3 separate regions of the Homo sapiens genome follow, and regions 2 and 3 are each linked to region 1. Evidence: fine-mapped expression QTL. A gene starts in region 1. Each other region holds a variant in brackets. All regions are shown on one strand. Distances are from middle to middle.

Region 1 (2,760 bases):
AGTGAAGTGGCGCGATCTTGGCTCACTGCAACCTCCACCTCCCGGGTTCAAGCGATTCTCCTGAGTAGCAGAGATTACAGGCGCGTGCCACTACGCCCAGCTGATTTTTGTATTTTTAGTAGAGATGGGGTTTCACCATGTTGGCCAGGATGATCTCGATCTCCTGACCTCGTGATCCGCCCGCCTAGGCCTCCCAAAGTACTGGGTTTATAGGCGTGAGCCACCGCGCCCGGCCGGCCCTTTCAACACTATCTTCACCTCTCCTTTGTCTTACAGTGCAACAGTCTCCTAACAGGTCTAACTACTTCCACCCTTCTCTATCCAGCAGGCAGAGCGGATTTTTAAAAATGTAAATCAGGTCAGGTCACTTCCCTTCTTAAAACCCTTAAGGTACACATTAGCCAAACCCCTGCCTTGGGCTAAAAGGCGCTGCTACAGTCATGCCACTTCCCCAACTACATCACAGGGCACTCCGGCCCTGGCTCTGTTTGCTTCAGCCACATGGCCTTCTGGCTGTTTCCAACCTAAAAGTCCTTCTCATTGGCTCTTCTCTCCACCCAGAAAACCCATTGTCTCGGATCCCCGCAAAACCGTGGCCTCCTTTGAACGACCTTACCCGATTTCGAGGGGCCCTCCCCCCATCTTCTGTCACCTCATCCGGTCTTTGGGGGGCATTTCTCACTTGCTGATACCTTCTTTATTGATTTACTTAACTCTCTCCTGCACACGAATGGAAGGTAACGGAGCAACACCCTACTCTCAGGTTTGAAGAGCAAGAGAATTACGAAGCTGGCTCTCACGGTCCTAGGGAGTCTCCGTTCCTGTACGGGACCTGGTGTGGGTCAACGTTCCCCAGCCAGACACCTCTCGCCCCCGGACCGGCCCCTACCATCTCCCATTTACATTCGGGGGTCCAAAAGATTCACAGCCTCCGAGGGGGCCCCACGCCGGCACCTGAGCGTCCCCACACCAGGCCTCCCCTCTTGGACGCGCGAGCCACTTCCGTGAGGCAGGTCCCCGAGGCCGGTGGCGATGACACCGAGCCGCCCCCGCGAAGCTGGGGTCACACAGGCCCGTCTCCCGGCAACGCCGCAGCCCAACCTCCAAACCATCCCTGCCCGTGGGGAGCCAACCCCTTCCCCGCCAGTCTCCCGCGCCTGGAGTCGGCGCCTCCATCCCCTACACTCACTCTGCGTCAGTCCTGCCTTCCCCCACCCACAGAAGCGCGCAGCCCGCGGCGGGCTGGGAGGAGGCGGCGCCAGGAGCCCAGCAGAGCCGTGGCCGACCGAGCACAGGCTGGTCCAGTAGGCCAGGCCGGACCAAACCACCGGGCCCACCTCTGTGGGAGCACCAGTTCCAGGTCTGGGGGAGTCTCGACTGACTGACTCTACCCATCTCCCGCCGCATCCAACAATAAGCTGAGCTCCTCCTCCCCCTATTTTTCCTTTACGCTTTCATTATCCTCCCCGCTCCATTCCCGTAAAACAAGAAAAAAAAATGGTCCAGCCCAGCTCCCTCCGGGTTGCTAGGTCTTTGCCCTTACTTGGCGACGGCTTCGTACGTCTTTATGTGCGTCGTGACGCAATCTTCCACTCGTTCCCTCCTTGCCCCTCTCCCATTCTCCCTCCTGGAGCTGGCGGCCGGCGGGGTTACCGGAAGTGATGATGCAGGAGGCGATGGAGGGGGCGGGGCTTCGGGGCGGCCGCCGCCGGTGGGCCGCAGATGAAGAGGAGGCGGTGGCAGTGGTGGAAGAAGAGGCGGCGGCGGCGGGGGTAGGGAGCCTGGAAACGCGAGCGGGGATGGTAGGTGGTTTGGACCCGCCGGGCCGCCGTCGTTTCCAGAAAGGGTTTGACTGGAGGAACCTCTGGAGCAGCTGTGAGTTTTGGGGAGGGGGGGAGTTGAGGAAAAGGCGGGGGGGCATTGAGAGATGAAGGGGCGGGGGTTGGGTACCTTCGAGAAAGGGGGGTGGAAAGGGAGGAGTGGAAGTCAGCGCGTTGTCTGGAGTGGTACCTCTGAAAGAAGAGGCTGTGAGGGGAGCCTGTGGCGTGTCAGCCGCAGGGCTCAGAAAACTTACCTACTGTCCCTGCCTCCCCACCGCCAGCACCCCTCAACCCAGGGCCTGGGGATATGGGGTTGGAGCTGCCCTGGAGGGGGTGCAGACTCTGGTCCTCTGTCCTGGGTGAGCGCTGTGAGGTAGGAGCCCTAGGGGGAGGTGGTGGGTGAATCTCCCAGCTCCCTCCGCCCTCATTTCCCTCCCCACCCCCATCGTTCTCTTTAATCATTAACAGCCCTGGAATTAAGGGGCTCAGACCTGAAGGCCTTTTTGTGCACCTTTGCTATAAACGATAACCATCTGTGTCCGAGGTAATGAGGCTGGAGGCTTTGCCTGTATCCTCTATAGGAAGTGGGACGGGGTGACAAATGTATTGTTTGTTCCTCCACCACACCCCCCGCACTTCTCACCCCTCATCCTCCCCCATGCACACCCCTGGTTTCCACTTTAATTCTCTGTGGCTGAGTGGCAATAGTGGATTTTTTTTTCTTCCCCTTTCCTCCTTTATGGCACTTAGTGCCTTGGTTACCTCTTTTGAATTTGGTGTTCAGCCTCTATCCCAGATCTTAACTGTAAGCTTTGTAATACTTCATACAGGCTGTCACGTTGGGAGTACCTCTTACGCTCCGATTATAATGAGCATTTTCTTTTATGAATACTGGAATTCCAGAGCCTTTGCAAGGAATCCTGAATGGCATCATAGCCCA
Region 2 (2,760 bases), 20 kb before region 1:
TTTCTTTGAAGAACCCTAACACAATGGCACATTCTTACAATAGCATACAATGCAATCATTTAAAAAAGATTGGGCTGGGCGTGGTGGCTCATACCTATAATCCCAGCACTTTAGGAGGCCAAGGCAGGCGGATCACTTGAGGCCAGGAGTTCGAGACCAGCCTGGCCAACATGGTGAAACCCTGTTACTACTAAAAATACAAAAATTAGGTGGGTGTGGTGGTGTACCTGTAATCTGTAATCCCAGCTACTCAGGAGGCTGAGGCAGGTGAATCCCTTGAACCCAGGAGGCTGCAGTGAGCCAAGATTGCGTCACTGCACTCCAGACTGGGTGACAGAGTGAGGCTCTGTCTCAAAAAAAAAAAAAGATTGAGGGAGAGCTACATACAAAGATGTGCAGAAGACATGAAGTAAAATAAGTACGCAGTATAACATTATATCCAGAATCCTACATATGTAAAGAAAATGTAGGTACATGAATACAGAAAAAAAGACTAAAAGGGTATACTACCAAACTAATTAGGTTGAGCCACTACAATATAAAATTGCTGTTTTTGTAGCTAAAAGAGTTGAATATTGGCAATTTTCCATTTAACAGTTAAAGTGTTCACCCTCTGCACAATGAGAAATTTTTTTTTTTTTTTTTTTTTTTTAAGAAATTTGGGCTGGGCGCAGTGGCTTACGCCTGTCATCCTAGCACTTTTGGAGGCCACGGTGGGCAGATTGCCTAAGCTCAGGAGTTCAAGACCAGCCTGGGCAACATGGTGAAACCCTGTTTCTATTAAAATACAAAAAATTAGCTGGGTGTGGTGGTGCACGACTGTAGTTCCACCTATTCGAGAGGTTGAGGAATGAGAATCACTTGAACTGGGAAGGCAGAGGTTGTAGTGAGCAGAAATCATGCTGCACTCCAGCCTGGGCGACAGAGTAAGACTCTGTCTCCAAAAAAACGAACAAACAAAAAAGATTTCTGGCCAGGCACGGTGGCTCATGCCTGTTATCCCAGAGCTTTGGGAGGCTGAGGTGGGAGGATTGCTTGAGCCCAGGAGTTCAAGACCAGCCTGGGCAACACAGTGAGACCTCCATCTCTACAAAAAATTAAAACATTAGCTGGGCGTGGTGGCACATGCTTGTAGTCCCAGCTACTTGGGGAAGTGAGGTGGGAGAATCACTTTAGCCTGGGAGGTCAAGGCTGCAGTGGGCCATGACTGTACCACTGTACCTAGCTTGGGTGATGAAGCGAAGACTCAGTCTCCACAAATAAATAAATAAATAAAACTTCTTTTAAATTAAATTATTGTTTTAAATTTATGGTATGAAAGAATTTAAGAAAACATAAATTTATATACATTTATTATTTTAAATTCATATAAATTTGAAATTTATTTTGTTTCTTAACTTTCTGAATGTATTAAGTTTAT[A/TTATA]TAATTTTTTTATTTTAAATTTATATATATAAATTTAAGTTTTATTTATTTTTTGAGACAGGGTCTCACTCTGTCACCCAGGCTGGAGCGCAGTGGTGTGATCATGGGTCACTGCTGCCTCAACCTCCTGGGCTGAAGCAATTCTCCCACCTCAGTTCCCCAAGTAGCTGGGAATACAGGAGTGTGTCACTATGCCTGGCTAATTTTTAAATTTTGTATAGCAATGGGGTCTCACTGTGTTGCCCAGGCTGGTCTCAAACTCCTAACCTCAAGTGATCCTCCTGCCTTGGCCTCCCAAAGTGCTAGGATTATAGGCATGAGCCGCAGTGCCTAGCCTGGATGAGAATTTTTGACCATTTTTACTTTCTACTTTATGCATTCCTTTCATGTTTGAACTTTATTCTTTTAGTAACAACAAACCTGCCTTTTATAATTAAACACATTTCCATAAAAAAGATGAAAGTGAAAAGAGAAAAAGCTCTACAGTGTGAGCTGGTTTTCCCTTCCATACGTGGAAAGCTATGTAAGCAGGATACGTCATGCATTCATTGACATTTTACTTTGTTGTGATGGGCTGGCAGCATGCAATGATAGCTTATTTCCAACATGCCTCCCACAGCAGCTCTGGGCTTCTCAGCAAGCACTCGCCCTCTTGTTACACATTCTTGGAAATAACCAGGTTGATGAGGGTAAGTACCCAGCACTTGTTAACCGGAGTCACACTTACTGGCCTTGGGTAAGGAATCTTGTAATGCAGTCCAATTTCAATCCTGGCTGTGCATTCATCTATACACTGTTTAATTAGGTCTGTGTCCGTGAGCTATTAAAAGGGAGAAAGAAATGAGGCTGATAGTATCTTTCTAATGGTACATAGAGTATAGGTATACATTTTCTCAAACTTTTTTAGTTCACTAGCCAGTAAATGAAATGTTACTAATTTGGAAAATCAAAAGCAATTTAATATTAAAGCTTACCATAAACTTTTAAAATCGTTAAAGTAGGTAAAAATAATTCAAATAATACAAAAGGATGTAACATAAGAACTACGTTTCCCTCTTACTCCTCTATTCCAGTTCCTCATCTCGGAGACAACAATTAGCAGTTTCTTGTGTGTTCTTGCAGGGGTATTCTATGTATATGTGAAAATGCACATGTATGTAGAAGCTGATTATTTTTCTCACACAAACAATAGCTCCCTTTGTTCTGAACCTTGCTTTTTCATGAACATAACTTGAGGTTCCTTCTATATTCTATCTATAGAGCTGCTCCCTTCTTTTTAACAGCTATATAAAATTCCAACAGAAGGCTTTATTATAATTTCACCAATCTCCTACCCATGG
Region 3 (2,760 bases), 26 kb before region 1:
AAAGTCCATCTTTGTTATACAGTTGCTAATAACTTGGTGGAACCATGTCTATGTCCTAGGACTTTGTGGAAGGCAGAACTTAAGAGTGATGAACATATCTGGCAAAAAAAAAAAAAATATCTAAGCAGCAAAGCATTCAAGGCTTTGAATGGCTTCTTTTGGTGGCTTATAGTAAAATGAGAGAAGAAAGAAATGACTTAAAGATGGAATGTGTGATGAAAAAGGAAGCAGAATAAGATTTGGAAAATTCTCAGCCTGTTGCCCAGGCTGGAATGCAGTGGCATGATCTCTGCTCACTGCAACCTCTGCCTCCTGGGTTCAAGCGATTCTCCTGCCTCAGCCTCCCAAGTATCTGGGATTACAGGCACCCGCCACCACGCCCAGCTAATTTTTGTATTTTTAGTAGAAACGGGGTTTTGCCGTGTTGGCCTGATCTCGAACTCCTGATCTCAGGTGATCCACCCACCTCGGCCTCCCAAAGTGCTGGGATTACAGGCATGAGCCACTGTGCCTGGATTTAAAGAATTTTTAAAAAGCATGTTCAGTAGAGAAAATTAAGGGTTTGGTCAAGCAGCCCTTTTAAAAGAGATTAATATGAGTAGAAGGAAGCCAGGGTTTATTCATCAAGACAATGGGAAAATAACCCCAAAGGCATTTCAGAGATCTTTGAGGCAAGCTAGGACCTTGAGGGCAAGGTTTCCAGAGAGGTGCAGATAAATTCCAAGCTCAGCTGCCCCAGCCATGGCTCAAATGGGCCCACATGGGTCCTGCCACTCCAGAAAGTACAAGCTGTAGATCAGTATCATTATATATATATATATATATGTATTGAAACATCAAATTGCACCCTATAAATATATACAATTATAATGTACAATTTGTCCCATTTCTGTTTAGATACAATGTGTCAATTAAAAAGATAATTTTTGTAAAAGTACAAGCCGTGAACCTTGGCAGCATCCATGTGATGCTAATTCTACAGGTGCACAGAAAACAAGTGCTGTGGTGCCTTGGCAGGCTCCACCTCCATCTCAAAGGATGTTGCAGACAGTCTGGGGACTCAGGAAGACATTTGTCACAGGGGCAGGGCCATTTCAGAGTCCCCACTAGGGCAATGGCTAGTGGAGCCATGAGAGTGGGGCAGTTCTTGAGGCCCCAAACTGTAAGGCCGCCAGTGTGTAACTCCAGCCTGAGATAGCTGCAGGCATGAGATTCCAACCCATGAGAGATGCTGCATAGACCGAGTCCAGCTGCCTGAGGCCTTGGGGGGCCAATTTCCTACCCCAGTGTGCCCAGGATTTAGGACATGCAGTCAAAGATGAGTATTCTGATATCTTCAGTTTTTTTTTTTGTTGTTTTTTTTTTGAGATGGAGTCTCGCTGTGTTGCCAGGCTGGAGTGCAGTGGCGTGATCTTGGCTCACTGCAACCTCCACCTCCTGGGTTCAAGCAATTCTCCTGACTCAGCCTCCCGAGTAGCTGGGATTACAGGTGTGTGCCACCACACCCAGCTATTTTTTGTATTTTTAGTAAAGACAGGGTTTCATCATGTTGGCCAGGATGGTCTTGATCTCTTGACCTCGTGATCCACCTGCCTCGGCCTCCCCAAGTGCT[G/A]GGATTACAGGCGTGAGCCACCATGTCTGGCCTATCTTAAGATTTGATATTGTTTTCTATCTTGGGTTTTACACTCACTTGGGAAGTTACCCCTTTCTTCTTGCCTATTTCTTCCTTTTGGAATGGGAATGCCTATTTGATGCCTGTCCTGCAATTGTATCCTGGTAGTAGATAAAACAGGCTCACAGCTGGAGGGAAATTTACCTCAGGATGAATTGTGCCTTGAGCCTCACCCATATCTGATTTAGATCAGTCTGGAATTTGGACTTTTGAGTTGACACTGAAACAAGTTGAAACTTCTGGGCTACTGGGATAGAATGTATTTTGCATGTGAGAATGACATGAGTTTTGGGGGCCAGGGATAGAATGCTATGATTTAAATGTGTCGTCTGAAGTTCATGTGTTGGAAACTTAATCACCATTGCAACAGTGTTGAGAAGTAGGGCTTTTAAGAGGGGATTAGATCATGAGAGCTCTGCCCTCATGAATGAATGTCATAATGGCAGGTGTGAGTTCATTATCACGAGACTGGGTTTGTTATAAAAGTGAGTTTGGCCCTCTCTCACTCTCTCTCACCATGTGATGCCTTCTGCCTTATAACGACACAGCAAGAAGGCCCTCACCAGGTGCAGACTCCTCAATCTTGTAGTTCCTGGCCTCCAGCACTGTTAAGACATAAATCTCTGTTTTTCATAAAGTACCTAGTGTTAGATATTCCATTATAGCAGCACAAAGTGTACTAGTTGCATTTGTGTTAAATATGCACACACTGAGGCCTGGCGTGGTGGCTCACGCCTGTAATCCCAGCACTTTGGGAGGCTGAGGCGGGCGGATCACCTGAGGTCAGGAGTTCAAGACCAGCCTGACCAACATGGAGAAACCCCGTCTCTACTAAAAATACGAAATTAGCCAGGCATGGTGGCACATGCCTGTAATCCCAGCTACTCGAGCGGCTGAGGCAGGAGAATTGCTTGAACCCAAGAGGCAGAGGTTGCGGTGAGCTGAGATTGCACCATTGCATTCCAGCCTGGGCAATGTGAGCAAAACTCCGTTTCAAAAAAAAAAATTTTATATATATACATATACTATTACTCCACTGATACAGCATCATATTTGTTCCCTACGTTATTGCCAAACCCTGTGATAAG

Alleles and levels. Positions count from the first base shown, and alleles are read on the strand shown. Sizes are in standard deviations (SD) of each study's normalised expression. Not every link is listed here.
For the expression in monocytes of the gene that starts at base 1,308 in region 1, TTATA is the low allele of the variant in region 2 and A is the other (moderate effect, 0.64 SD a copy in Fairfax 2014).

What was found. PIP is the estimated chance that this variant, and not a neighbour inherited with it, causes the effect. A credible set is the group of variants that fine-mapping cannot tell apart.
Region 2: its variant is the best candidate, but not a certain one, in a credible set for the expression of LYRM1 in monocytes (Fairfax 2014, PIP 0.53).
Region 3: its variant is the best candidate, but not a certain one, in a credible set for the expression of LYRM1 in whole blood (TOPMed, PIP 0.83).

What each region holds. Positions count from the first base shown.
Region 1 is chr16:20,899,319-20,902,078 of GRCh38, reverse strand. LYRM1 (LYR motif containing 1) reads right to left here and starts at 1,308. Exons shown (of 4, transcript NM_001128302.3): 1 at 1,190-1,308. DCUN1D3 (defective in cullin neddylation 1 domain containing 3) reads left to right here and starts at 1,721. Exons shown (of 3, transcript NM_173475.4): 1 at 1,721-1,875. RefSeq lists enhancers at 331-1,116, 1,117-1,902, 2,112-2,161.
Region 2 is chr16:20,919,602-20,922,361 of GRCh38, reverse strand. LYRM1 (LYR motif containing 1) reads right to left here. Exons shown (of 4, transcript NM_001128302.3): 3 at 2,148-2,240. Among named protein-coding and RNA genes, the nearest start is that of LYRM1, 20 kb to the right of the region's middle. The variant A/TTATA (reference allele first, on the strand shown) is at 1,421.
Region 3 is chr16:20,925,115-20,927,874 of GRCh38, reverse strand. No RefSeq gene overlaps it. Among named protein-coding and RNA genes, the nearest start is that of LYRM1, 26 kb to the right of the region's middle. The variant G/A (reference allele first, on the strand shown) is at 1,613.